Homo sapiens: one gene and its partners. The protein of the gene in region 3 purifies or fractionates together with the protein of the main gene of each other region. This does not show direct contact. Each region holds a gene or a part of one and is shown on either strand. Other genes may lie near its edges.

The links. The genes of interacting proteins can lie anywhere in the genome.
Region 1: the proteins of DEFA6 (region 3) and PZP purify together in Homo sapiens (affinity purification with mass spectrometry; 2 studies listed by BioGRID and IntAct, with this or other methods). This does not show direct contact.
Region 2: the proteins of DEFA6 (region 3) and RBPMS2 purify together in Homo sapiens (affinity purification with mass spectrometry; 2 studies listed by BioGRID and IntAct, with this or other methods). This does not show direct contact.
Region 4: the proteins of DEFA6 (region 3) and ZFPM1 purify together in Homo sapiens (affinity purification with mass spectrometry; 2 studies listed by BioGRID and IntAct, with this or other methods). This does not show direct contact.

What each region holds. Positions count from the first base shown.
Region 1 is NC_000012.12:9,205,596-9,209,730, forward strand, and holds the start of PZP (pregnancy zone protein precursor), read right to left. Parts: upstream 2,801-4,135; 5' UTR 2,747-2,800; coding exon 2,664-2,746; intron 1-2,663. UniProt on the Homo sapiens protein: Is able to inhibit all four classes of proteinases by a unique 'trapping' mechanism. This protein has a peptide stretch, called the 'bait region' which contains specific cleavage sites for different proteinases.
Region 2 is NC_000015.10:64,741,991-64,744,589, reverse strand, and holds part of RBPMS2 (RNA-binding protein with multiple splicing 2), read left to right. Parts: intron 1-2,599.
Region 3 is NC_000008.11:6,924,197-6,927,332, forward strand, and holds DEFA6 (defensin-6 preproprotein), read right to left. Parts: upstream 1,881-3,136; 5' UTR 1,840-1,880; coding exon 1,647-1,839; intron 732-1,646; coding exon 622-731; 3' UTR 501-621; downstream 1-500. UniProt on the Homo sapiens protein: Host-defense peptide that contributes to intestinal innate immunity and mediates homeostasis at mucosal surfaces by forming higher-order oligomers that capture bacteria and prevent microbial invasion of the epithelium.
Region 4 is NC_000016.10:88,459,780-88,463,279, reverse strand, and holds part of ZFPM1 (zinc finger protein ZFPM1), read right to left. Parts: intron 1-3,500. UniProt on the Homo sapiens protein: Transcription regulator that plays an essential role in erythroid and megakaryocytic cell differentiation. Essential cofactor that acts via the formation of a heterodimer with transcription factors of the GATA family GATA1, GATA2 and GATA3.

The DNA of each region.
Region 1 (4,135 bases), on a different chromosome or scaffold from region 3:
AAATGTAACTCTTCAAAGCTTTAATGATTCAGTGATTCATGATTCAATATCTGCAGGGTTAGGCCATTTATAGAGTAAATTTGCAAGTAAAAACTATTATTTTCTTATATTATTTTACTACCCTTACTTTCCATTGCCAACATAAACTCTTACTTTTTAAATTGTTTTCTGGACAGGCAATTTGACACAAGAAACCCAATATTGTTGCTTTACAAAATTAATAGGTGTGAGACTAGGAGGAGAGAATCCAAGGATAATTGAGTTGTGGAATGTGGAACTCAAATTTGGTCCCCTCATCCTCCATGTAGTCTGCTCCAGCACACCAGTCTTGCTACATGTGTTTTAAAGTGTTCCTGGGCAAAACTATATGCCATGAATCTCCAGGGCCACTCTGAAATCATCCAAGTTTCAGATGATTTTACTGTATGAGTAGTAAGGTTTTGTTCTCTAGCAGAGAAGCTGAGGGCAGTTCAGTAACTCACTGATAGTCATTCAGCTAGTCTCTTATGTCTTAATCTTTTTCTGGTATCTGGATGCTTCTGATCTCCTGATCACTGCTCTTTTAACAGCATAATAAATAATAAAAATGTATCATTTTTTACATCCCCATCAAAAAATTTTTCCTTTAGTTCTTTGATCTTAATAAGAAGGTATATATATATTTATAATTTATTTACTATTTTTATTCTTATAAATTATAAGCCTAAAAGATATCACGATTAAAAATTAATTCCACATATATTTGATATTCTAAAGAACTATTTTATATGAGTTCAGTTAATATTTTTTTAACAGATATTGAAATCAGAACAAATCCAGGTTGACAAACTTGCCCAAGATGTCATTGGTAGTGAGCTGCTAAAATGTTTTAATATATGTTTACTCAATCATGAATGTTTGCATTTTAAATATTTGCCTCTTTAGCAGGGACTAAATGTAGCAAATATTAAAGTGATAACTTTTAATTTTCTCTTTTTCATTTTATTCCCCTGAAACCTTCATCTTTCTGAAGCTTACTGCCCCAAGGCAGGGGAGAATGGCTATTGGTTCTCTTTTGTAGTCTCTCACATTTATCACATCAAGGGTTAATTCTGGAGGGATGAAGTTAAGTTTTCTCCTTATAAAGGGAGAAAACACCCCTTCTGCTTGTGACAACTAGGGCATGAGGCTTGTTGTTCTTTGTTCAGTGGCAGACACAACGTAAAAGGATGGTTTCAATGGCAGCATGGTCCAATGTAGTGTAGGAATGCATCCAGAACCACAAATTGCTTAATGTTTCTGACCCAATACACGCTACTCGCTTTATCCATTCAGTCTGCTCTCAGAAAGCAAAATAGCCTCCACATATTCCCATATGCTTTCTGGATGGAGAGCAGCTGGAAGTAGTAGAGCCCACTGCTGTAGATGAGGTAGAGGGATAGTGGGGGAGAAATGTACCCCTACCGGTTGCCAGGAAATTGTGCAAGGAAAAAGCCTGAGGAAAGCAGGAGACTTACTGGATTGAACTCCTTATTTCTGCTTTCTGCGCTTTGGCCTGAAGAAGGCTATTTGTGTTAGATGGATAAGGGTAACACACAGAGCAGAGGGACCCCTTATCCCTTTCCCGATTTGGGACTCTGAAGACTTCCCTGTATCAGTCTGGAATACAGGAGACACGATAGGCATCTAGAAGTGCAGTGTGGGTATGCAAGAGAGAGGTAGAAGTTTAACCTCTCCAGGACACCTCAGTGCCTATGTGCTATTATTGGACCCAAGAGTTCTCACCATTCTCTGGAAGAAATGTAAAGGCAGCTGGGTTAAGGCCAGGGACCTTAAATGGCCTGGACTGCAAAGGGGCAAGGTGACCCTGCATCACAGGCTGTGTTGAAACAATAGCCATAGTATTTGAGGCAGGATGCAAAGGTAGGAGTTCTATGGGATATGAAACAGCTGAAGTGAGACAGTCAGTTAGAGAGGACTGTTGGGTCCTGAACACACAAGAGAAACCAGATGGCTAAACTTCAACAGTGCATGCCAGCAAGTAAGGAGAAGTCAGACTGACAGTAGCCAAGAAGGACGGAGAACTTTGAGACCAAGGACTCTGACAGTTTTCTCTATTAGGAGTTAATGGAGACCACAGTTCTCTAGACACTATAGAGGAGAGGAACTGGGGAGAGGTGGAAAAGAAGTCTTACAATTATTGAGTTGTACCAACTTACAACTGGATAGGGTTAAAATTATTTTCCCTGCTTTGGTCCCCCACTGGGGGCTGTTGGTGAAGACTTGATACATGATTGAAAAATAAAGGAGCTATACTTTCTGTATATATATATATGGCCTACAATACATGTTAAGTTGCACTTCACTATATATTTCGAATATCTCTATATTCAGTGCCTTCCATCCAAAAGAACTGTTCTGTGAAGTTGGGATCTAGTGTTTTATTTAATCATGCTTCCTAGTGACTAATCGTATTTATGACTCTGATTGGCCCAGTGTAGAAAAAATGATTTCAAGAATAGAGGATAAATGAAAGACAAACAAGGGATTAACTGGAATAATTTCTTATATTTGGAAGGTATTGTAATGAGTGGAAAGGTGGCATTTACAAAGGAAGGCAAAGCGAAGACACAAGGGAGAGACTGAAACGCACTCTGGAGGAAGGGGTCTTGAGTGAGACTTACGGTTCTGTAGAGTTTGAGTCACTGGCAGAAAGCAGGATAAGAAGTAGCACAAGACATAAATGAAGAAGTCTGTCTTTCCGCATTGTGAGGGATAAATCTCAGGGTTGTGTCCAACTCTCTGCCCTCAGCCTCGCCCTGGAGACCAGCTGAGTTTACCAGGCTTTATGTGGCCACTATGTACAAACAAGCCCCACCCCAAGGCCTCTGAATAGAGTTCAGAATTGAGCACAGATTCCCTAAAAGGGTCATTACTCTCAGTGGTTGCCTCATTTTTCTCAAGGCTAAATTCTGATAGGTACTGAGGCATGTCTGGAAGATAAAATTTGTATTCCATTTAGAATGAGCTTTGACAGCAAACCTCCTGATAAGGAACCTTCAACCTACCTTTCTCCATCTCTTTCAAAATCCTTACAAGCAGGTGACAAAGGATGCTGACAAAGAATGTCAGGGACATGTTACCATGATAGTAGCTCATGCATTGCAGATTCATTTCTGGGACTGAGTGAGTTATAACTATAGACTTTAGGGTTTTTGGGTTTTCTTTTTTAGCAGTTGATTGAGTACATGGTCCTGGAAGAAAGTGATATAAAATAAGGATTTCAAGAGTAGAGGATCAATGAAAGATAAAAGAGATAAAAGATCAAAGAGATTTTAGAAAGGAGTTATCAAAGATCACACTTGTCTATTTCACAGCATTGACCTGATCAGATTCTTAGTTGATCCTATCTGTCCTTGTTACTGTCTGAGCACTCTAACGTTTGAGTCCCTTAAACCATGTCATTGACTTTATCTGAGATTTTTTTTTTGAGCCATACTGTGTGCTAAGTGCTATTCTGGTGATGAAAATACAATATTGAACAGGATATTCAGTATCCATGCTCTCATAGAACTTGTAGTACAATGATGATCACATATAAACCACCAGCAGATTTAATGCCATCCTTAGACTGCAGACATTGGTGTCTGTTTACATACTGTATTGCTTGAAACTTTTTAAATCAACTTTCTTTCTCTTTCTCCATATTTCAGCCTAATCATCCCTTCTTTGGAGAGCAAATTCCTGGCCACACTGCTGAAAGTGGATTCCTTCCTATTAGTTTTTATTTCACATCTTTGTTTCTTTTGTCACATTATCATAGAATGAAATAATTTCTTTTAAATTATGAAATGTTATATATATATATACTCACAAATATAGAGAGCAAGATAAAAGACACTCGTACCTTACATGCACCCAACTTTAATAAAATTAAACACTTGCCAAGTTTGTTTAAGGTCATTTCTTCTTAAGAAATGAAAGATGGCAATGGTAGTGCTCTTTTAAAATTTGTCTAGAAGCTTTTCCAGTTTTTACCAGATCCACCAACCCAAAAAAAGAAATAAATCAAGACAAATATGGTTGGAGTTTCCTTTGTAATTCTCTCCAATCTCATTTCCCTTCCAATGTTGTGGGATTAGGAAGTTGATATGTA
Region 2 (2,599 bases), on a different chromosome or scaffold from region 3:
TTGTTTTCTTTCTTTCTTTTTTTTTTTTTTTGAGACAGAGTTTCACTCTTGTTGCCCAGGCTGGAGTGCAATGGTGTGATCTTAGCTCACCTCAACCTCCGCCTCCCAGGTTCAAGTGATTCTTCTGCCTCAGCCTCCCTAGTAGCTGGGATTACAGGCATGTACCACCACGCCCAGCTGATTTTGTATTTTTAGTAGAGATGGGGTTTCTCCGTGTTGGTCAGGCTGGTCTCGAACTCTCGACCTCAGGTGATCCGTCCGCCTCGGCCTCCCAAAGTGCTGGGATTACAGGCATGAGCCACCGCGCCCAGCCATTGTTTTGTTTTCTTTATGATAAATTCCTAGAACTATGACACGGTGAAAGTGTAGACTTACCAGTCTGGGTTAAATGTTTTAATTTCGGATAAGTGAGGCTTCCATATCTTTGGTTGTTTATATCTTTTTTTTTTCCTTTCTCTTTTTTTAGTTATTTTTATTTTTTTGAGACAGAGTCTCACTCCGTTGCCCAGGCTAGAGTGCAGTGGCATGACCTTTGCTCTTTGCAACCTCTGCCTCCTGGGCTCAAGCACGATCCTCCTGCCTCAGCCTCCCAAATTGCTGGGATTACAGGTGTGTGCTACCACGCCCAGCTAATTTTTGTATTTTTTTGCAGAGACGGGGTTTCGTAATGGTGGCCATGCTGGTCTCAAACTTCTGGGCTCAAGAGATCCGCCCACCTCTGCCTCCTAGAGTGCTGGGATTACAGGCGTGAGCTGTCACACCTGGCCTTATATTTATTCTTATGTAGGTTCATCCCGTTGCTTGCTTTCTGGTGTATCTTCTCAACTGGTCAGTCCCAGGATCTGAGAGACGGCTGAGTTTGCATCCTCCGCTCTTTGTTTTGAAGCAGCCCTCTCGGAACCTGGTCACTATAGCCTGTGGGGGGTACTCTCAGGAGCCCCCCCCCCCCTGGGCACAACTGGAGGCCCTGAAAGGACACTGCGGGTGCCCTGTCTTGCTGGCCTGGCCCCCTGGGGGTCTCCTGTAGCTGGAGCAGAAAGAAGAGCTCTAGGAAGGGATTGTGTGGCTTCTAGAGGACCCAGGCCACTGGCCTATGCCAGGCACCCGGAGGAAGCGGAAAAGCAGCCCTTCTAAATGCATTCCGTCTGCTTCAGTGGCACAGCTGTCCCAAGCCCAAATATGGGAGCTTTCCTCCACTTTCTCCCCAAGGAGTCCCTCAGGCTGGAGGGAAAGTCGCTGCTTGGGAAGCAGGAATCCCAGCACCTTGTAGCGAGAGTGTAGGGCAGGATCCAGCAGATATGCTGAGGGCGGCCTTAGGCAGTCATTCAAGGCCTTAGCTTCCCAGTGGTGAAAGAGGTTGGGTTGCAGGCCTCCTGAGCTCCTTCCATTCTGTCGTCCATGTTCTCCCCTTGTCCGGCCCTGCGGGACACCCAGCCCGTCCGGGATTTCCTTGCTGTGGGGCTGCCGGAGGCTACATGAAGGGCAGTGGTCAGGGCCCACTAAGGGGCTCCCTGAGCTGGTGCCAGCCGCCGGCTTCTCTGATAGCAGCATTGCTCGTTTCCTCGTGTGTCCCTCTCTTGTGGAATAAGTGCTAGTGTCCAGCCAGGTTTCTAACTTCCCGCTGAGCTCCTGGGATGTGGTGGCTGGAATTCTGCAGTGTACAAAACAGCACCTAGAATTTGGCGGGGATAGGAACGGGTTCTTAGGAAGCTTCCATCAGCCCCCAGACGGCCTGGCATGGCTTACCCAGGAAGCAGGAGTTCCCAGCAGCCAAGTGGGTAACTGGGTCTGCCTGCTCCAACCTCAAGGGAGCTGTCTGCAGGCCCAGCTTCTACTCCTTTCCTGCCACACGCTCATGTGCTGCCCCTTCCCTTCCTGAGGGGACTCCAGCTCCCCTCCCTGGATGCTCATCCCCCAACCGCAACTCAAGGTCCTGTGTTGTCCCGCTCCCCCCGCCACACCCCTTTCCCTGTCCTGGGTCAGGCTGGGACAGACATGCTTCACCGTGCATAACTGGGGCAGGCGGCCTTCCCTGCGGTCTTGGCAGTCAGCATACTTGCCTTCCAGATGACTGGCCCACAGGGAGGAGGGAACGTGCCATTTTCTTGACCAGTCTCTGGGAACCCAGCTTTGGGGCTACTGCTCTGTGGGGCCTTCTGGCAAGTGCCAGGGTTTAGGCAACTTCCAGGCACTGGTGAGGATGATCTCAGATAGCTGCCGCCCACCTGACGTTATAGACCTCTGGACTTAGAGGCTTGTGATGGAGGGCATGGCACAGCAGGGGTGGGAAGGTCAAAACGGGAGCCTCAGCTGGGTCTCATCCATGGCTTCTCAGAAGAATCAGGACTGATGTTGGAGAGTCCTACCCCTTGGGGTCTACACGGACTTTGGGTTTTGTTTTGTTTTTTGTTTTTGTTTTTGTTGGAGACGGAGTTTTGTTCTTGTTGCCCAGGCGGGAGTGCAATGGCGCGATCTCAACTCACTGCAACCTCCGCCTCCCGGGTTCGAGCGATTCTCCTTGCCTCAGCCTCCCGAGTAGCTGGGATTACAGGCATGCACCACTACGCCCGGCTAATTTGTATTTTTAGTAGAGATGGGG
Region 3 (3,136 bases):
CAGCATTAACATTAAAACAGAGTGCCTAAGGCCACGTGCGGTGGCTCATGCCTGTAATCCCAGCACTTTGGGAGGCCGAGGTGGGCGGATCACTTGAGGTCAGGAGTTCGAGACCAGCCTGGTCAACATAGTGAAACCCTGTCTCTACTAAAAATACAAAAATTACTTGGCGTGGTGGTGGATACCTGTAATCCCAGCTACTTGGGAGGCTGAGGCAGGAGAATCACTTGAACCCAGGAGGTAGAGGTTTCAGTGAGCCAAGATTGTGCCACTGCACTGCAGCCTGGGCAACAGAGCGAGACTCCATCTCAGAAAGCAAAAAACAAAAAAACAAAAAACCCAAATCCTCTCTTCTCTCAACATCCTCTCTACCACTTCTCTGGTCTACATAGAAAACTCTTTCGAAGAGCTAGTGTTCTGAGATACGACTTGGGTTTTTGTTTTTGCATCTGAAGAATCCTGAATTATCAAACACCAGAAAAGCACAAACACAAAAGAACTTGCTGAAAGGACTTTATTTGAGATGAGGAAACAAAGTTGATGGCAATGTATAGGACACACGACAGTTTCCTTCTAGGTCATAAAGTAAATTATGAATATATTTCTCTCTGTTCTCATCCCTCAGAGGCAGCAGAATCTGTGGTTAATACCCATGACAGTGCAGGTCCCATAGGAATATTCTGTTGAATAACAGGACCTTCTGCAATGGCAAGTGAAAGCCCTTGTTGAGCCTGGGGACAGAGAGAGAGAGCATCAGAAATTGAGCACCAGGGTCAGCAGCGGGCAGTAAAGAGAATCTTCAGGAAGTTGCATGCTTGCTGACATGTAATGCTGGCTGCATTACAGCCAATAGCATGATCACACCATCAATAGGAATAAATACGCAGAGCAGTGTTGGTCACACACAGGATTAGAGAGCCATTCTGATATGCTGTACTTATCTGCTCCTTCCCTGTCACACACACATCTGAATGCACCCATATGACTGTCTCCAGTTTGCAACGGTTCCTATAAAAGTCAGATTAAAAAACATTCCTTTAGCAGCTGGATGTGGTGGCTTACGCCTGTAATCCCAGCACTTTGGGAGGCCAAGGTGGGTTTATCACAAGGTCAGGAGTTCAAGACTAGCCTGGCCAAGATGGTGAAACCCCGTCTCTACTGAAAAAAAAAAAAATACAAAATTTAGCCAGGCTTGGTGTCTGGTGCCTGTAATCCTAGTGACTTGGGAGGCTGAGGGAGAGAATTGCGTGAACCCAGGAGGCAGAGGTTGCAGTGATCTGAGATAGTGCCACTGCACTCCAGCCTGGGTGACAGAGCGAGACTCCATCAAACAAAACAAAACAAAACAAAGCAAAACAAAACATTCCTTTAAAATTAGGCTCTCTTCCTTGAAGTAGAGACTCCTCAATACATTTCTACATGGCAAAAAATTAGAAAATTTCATAGACTTATCATAGAATTAAAAAATCTTTAGAGAAAAGTCATGCCTTGAATATCACTGATTCTTCCTTTTCAGTACAAACATAAAGTAATTGAGGCCTGGGGAGGTGATCACCTAAGAGAAAGAGCCAGCTGTTGGATCTAATTCTAGAAGTGCTTGGTTTTCCTCTCTACACTCCTAGCTCTGCAATGCTGGTGTCTCTTACCCAAAGCTCTAAGACTTGAGCTTGCATCCTCTGCAAAGGAGACGGCAAAGTCCTGGTCATTTGCCCCACGCTGCTCCTGGGCATCAGCCTCATAAGCTTTTGCCTGCAGTGGATCATCCTCAGCTTGGAGTGGCTCAGCCTTGGCCTGGAGGGCCACGAGGAGAACAGCAGTGAGGATGGTGAGGGTTCTCATGGCTAGGGTCGCTGGAGGAGAGAGAGCAGGAGCAGATGTGTGGGGAGTGAGGAGCCAGCCTGGATTTATAGGTCTGCTGGGAGAAGGCTCAGGGACAGATGTTGCGGTGAGACGGGGAGTGCATGTGATTGGGGAGCAGAAGAGCTACCCTTGCCCTCCATGTCCCTTTGATGCTCCTTTGTTCTCCAAGCTTCATTGTAGTGTGAGGCTGTTTATTGAGTGTCTGTTCTGGTCCCAGCTGATAGTGATGATAAGAACAGTGTTACATTGTCCTGTTTTCCATCTGCTGGAATATTTACTTGTTAATATTCAAAAAAGAAAAGAACAGTGCTTTCAATGAATAATTTCAGGAATCAAATGCCTCTTATTTTCTGAAGGTGGGGCTGGCCACTCTCTGGAGGTCTAGACCTTGAGGCCAGAGCTGGATCCCGCTAGAGTAGAGAGTTAATTCATTGCAGGATTCAGGGGGCATTTCTGCCCTCATGAAGGAGGCTTTGAGATTATGGGGTGAATAGGCTCTTGTGGGGCACAGTGTGGAGAAGATAATGACCTTATCAGCCTATAAGGGAAAAGAACTCAGTGGGATACTAGGTAAAGAGTTAGTAAAACTAAAGCCAAAAGATTTATTTCAAGAAACCCATGTGATCTGAATGTATCAACTAAAATATGTACTAGGTATTTCTCTCCACTTTGAGAAACATCGAAACAATTGACATGCCCACAATCCCCCTCTGAAATTTTATTTTATTTTTAATTTTAGAAAATGTTGAATTGCCCACAAGGACCATTCAAAGGGTAAAAGGAGTAATGAGCCTCCATCCTTGCCCCAGCCCTGCAGCTCTGCTCCAGGAAATCTCCACTTAAAAATTAAACATTGGTTTGTGCTTTGTTTTTTCTCCCTAATGCTGTAATTTGAATACTTTGTAGCTCAAAACATATAGAACTCTACCATTATTTTCATAGTCTCTTGTTTCTGGTCTTCTATTCAGGTATTTTATCCATTTTGAGTTAAGTTTTGTATATGCCAAAAGAGAAGGGTCCAGTTTTATTGTTTTGCATATGGAAATAGTATTCCCACCACCATTTATTGAAGAGACTCTCCTGTCCCTATTGTGTCTTCTTCATGCCATTGTCAAAAGTTACTTGACCATATGTGTTTCGATGTGTTTCTGGACTCTCAATTTTATTTCACTGGTATGTGTCTGGTTTTATGCCAATACCATATTGTTTTGATTACCGTAGCTTTGTAATATAATTTAAAACCAGGAATTGTGATGTCTTCAACTTTGTTTTTTTT
Region 4 (3,500 bases), on a different chromosome or scaffold from region 3:
GCTGAGGATGTCCAGGATAGATGCGCCATCAACCGTGAGGCCCTGTCCCCTGTCCCCGGAGGACTACCCAGCAGGTCTTTCCTCATGCATCACTTCGGGAAGGAGCCACGACCACCTGGCCCTGGGGCCTCCTCCGCTCCTGCTCCCTGGGTCTGACTTGGGAAGTGGGAGCTTGATGGAAAAAAGGGAAGTTGGGGCAGGAGGCGGTGATGGGTGCAGGTGCCCAGAAGGAAGTGGGAAGGAGTGGGCCCACGCAAGGCCAGCCGTGACAGAGACACCTGAGGGACGTCAGCAACCTGGGGAGGGGAGGGGGGCCCCTGCCCTGTTTGTGTGGATTTTGTTACAGACCACAGGGGGCCCTGGCCCGGGCTGCACCTCCCGTGTTGGGTGGCATCGCTCCTCACAGCCCCGTGAGGTGAGCATCACTGCTCCATTTTATAGTGGGGAAACTGAGGCTCAGGGTGGCTGAGTGACTTGCACGAAGACCGGGCAACCCTGGAGCCCAGCCTGGTGCCTTACGATACCCCCACTTTGCAGAGATGGAGACTGAGGCTTGGAGAAGCAAGGTAACCTCCCTATAATGACAGAGGGTCTAGGATTCTCCACTCCAGGATTCCAACCATGGCGGCCCACAGGGAAGCTCCCGGAACAACCCGGAAGCCCGCGGTGGCTGCCCTCTCCTTCTCAGGAAGCCACACCCCTGACAGTCCAGGAGGTCCTAGGCACAGGCAGCCATGCAGGTCCTAGGCACAGCAGGGTCACCCTGCCCTGCCGCTGCCTCCACAGCCAGAGCACCACTGTGTGCTGTGAGACTCTAGCGCAGCCACCCACCCTCTCTGACCCCCGATTTTCTCACGTGCGAAATGGGTGGAGAACCCAAAGCTAAGTGGTGTCTGGAGAAGGGCAGAACGGGGATGCCCGTAAGGCACTTAGCAGACAGGAGCCCTCAGCACGCCGGGCTCACTTCAGCTCCAGGTGGGGAACTGAGGGAACCAGGGGAGTCAGGGCCTGAGCTCTCGGAAGCTGCCCACCAGCCCCCAACACCCATTTCACAGCCGGGGAAGCTGAGGCTCCCAAGACCACAGCCAGCAGCCCAGGGGAAGCTGGGGAAGCAGACGGAGGCACAGGAGGCTGAGGGGAGGGGCCTGCTTATCTGCTCACGCGGCTCTGCCCAAGATCAGCCACCACATTCCTGCCTCAGCAGGACCACTGCCTTCCCCCAAAACACAAGGCAGCTGGGGAGGGAGGAGGAGATGGGGAGGCCGCCGGCCGATGCAGTAGGGCTGGTGGCCTGGGGGTGCTGAGTGGGCAGTGCCCAGAGAAACCTGGGCCCACCCCCAGGGTCCACGGCCCCAGCTCCCACGTCACATAACCTCACACATGTCACGCCTCCAGGGCCTCCGTTTCTCTCCTGTAAAATGGGTTGGCCAGTGCCAACGATGATCTTAGCAGTGGGTCAGATCTCCGGGCAAGAAGAGGACAGCCGGGGCTGGGGTGTGAGGCCAGCCCAGTCCAGGGCGTGGCACACTCAGGCAGAGTCCCTCCTCCCTTCAAAACCTAACGCCTGAAGGAGGGGAGGGCCAGCGGGACTCTGCTTAACGTCCAACCCTCAGGGCTTTTGGCAAAATATCAATAATGCAACCGGCAGCTCCAGAGGCAGCAAAGTCCCTCACAGACGTGTCCCTAGGACAGCCCTTCCCAGCCTGCACCCCACACAACAGCCGGGAAGGAGGTGTTCTCATCAAGCTCCTCCTTCAAGAGAGAAACAGAGGCCCCAGATACAGCCACTGGCCAAAGGGTCACAGCAAGGCCAGGCCAGGACGTGAGGTTGCGCTGTTGTCCGAAGCGGTCCCCAGACTGGTCACCTCCCTCTCCAGAGCTGAAGGCCGGCAACCACCCGGAGCCCTGAGGGTGCAGCCCAGGTGGCGGGGCAAAGCCCCTGCGGTGGGGATGGGGTGGGAACCTGGGGACTCCCCAGCAAGCATCCTGGTCCTCACCAGGCCTCGCACCCGTCGGTCCTCACCAGGGCCTCCCGCCCCACCCCTGGGTCCTCACCAGGCCTCCCGCCCCTGGGTCCTCACCAGGCCTCCCGCCCCGCCCCTCGGTCCTCACCAGGTCTCCCGCCCCTCGGTCCTCACCAGGTCTCCCGCCCCATCCCTGGGTCCTCACCAGGGCCTCCTGCCCCTTGGTCCTCACCAGACCTTCTGCCCCTGGGTCCTCACCAGGGCCTCCCGCCCCTCGGTCCTCACCAGGCCTCCCGCCCCACCCCTCGGTCCTCACCAGGCCTCCCGCCCCTCCCCTCGGTCCTCACCAGGCCTCCCGCCCCGCCCCTCGGTCATCACCAGGCCTCCCGCCCCGCCCCTCGGTCCTCACCAGGCCTCCCATCCCTCAGTCCTTAGCCTGCCCAGTGGCCCCATGAACAGCTGGGAGGCCGAGGCCCACGGGAGTAGGAGCACCATGTCACCCGGCATGAATAAGTCAGGTCCTCTTCCTGACGCGGGACCAGGGGTCTGCTCCAAACAGCTGCTATTTAAGCACCTACTGTATACCAGCCCTGTTAGACTACCCAACACAGCTCGGATAGGAGGGACCCTGTTATTCCCACTCTAAAGCGGAGTCTCTAAGGTGGGCATTGGCTGAGGCCACCTGGCTGAGAGCCACACCCTCCATCCTCACTCTGGGGTCCTTAAGTCAGTGCCACGTGCTAAACATGAAGGCTGGTGTTGGGCAGAGGGCAGGACCAGACCATCTCCCCTGTTTCTTCCTCGCACCAGGGCAGGACTTGAGTCCTGGCCCCTTAGGACCTTTTCATCCTCATCTGAAAAATGGGTATGCCCATTGAACCAACCGAGGCAGGGAGGGCCGCCACCATGACACTGCCTGGGCCCAGAAAGATGGCAGGCAGCTCCCCAGGAACTGCCAGTGTGCCTTCCTGTGAAGAACCCCACTCCTCCTGACCCACCTTCCCAGGCTGAGAGCAGCCCACTGCTCTCCGGGCCCTGCCAACAGTAGGCTGGGGACCCTCGATAAACCCTGGGCCTCTCGCTTGGCTGCCTGGACCCAAAACCCCTCTGGCTTGGCTTGGTCCAGACCCTCCCAGAGCCGGGTGGGGAGGTGGACAGGCACAGGCAGGAGCATCATCTCAGCCCCTCCTCGCTGCCTTCGCCAAAGGGAAGCCCCAGCCCAAGAGGGCAAGAGTATGCCAAGGCCACACAGCCTGGGGAGTCGGGATGCGCTGGAGGGAAGGGCCAGCCAGCTAGAGGGTGGGTGTCAGGGGCTGCCCTGACCTGGAACCTGGGGCCAGCGCAGTGAGCTATGTGAGCAGCAGGGTTGAGGGGCCCTTCCAAGGCAGGGCCCCTGTGTGTTTCACATGCTGGGCTGTCCTGGGAGACAGCTTGGGAAGAGGGATTGCTCCATCTCAGATAAGCTGGAAACCACAGATCTCACCCAAGTGATTGACCATGAAGGGGAAGAGGGGGAGGAAGAGGGGGAGGAGGAGG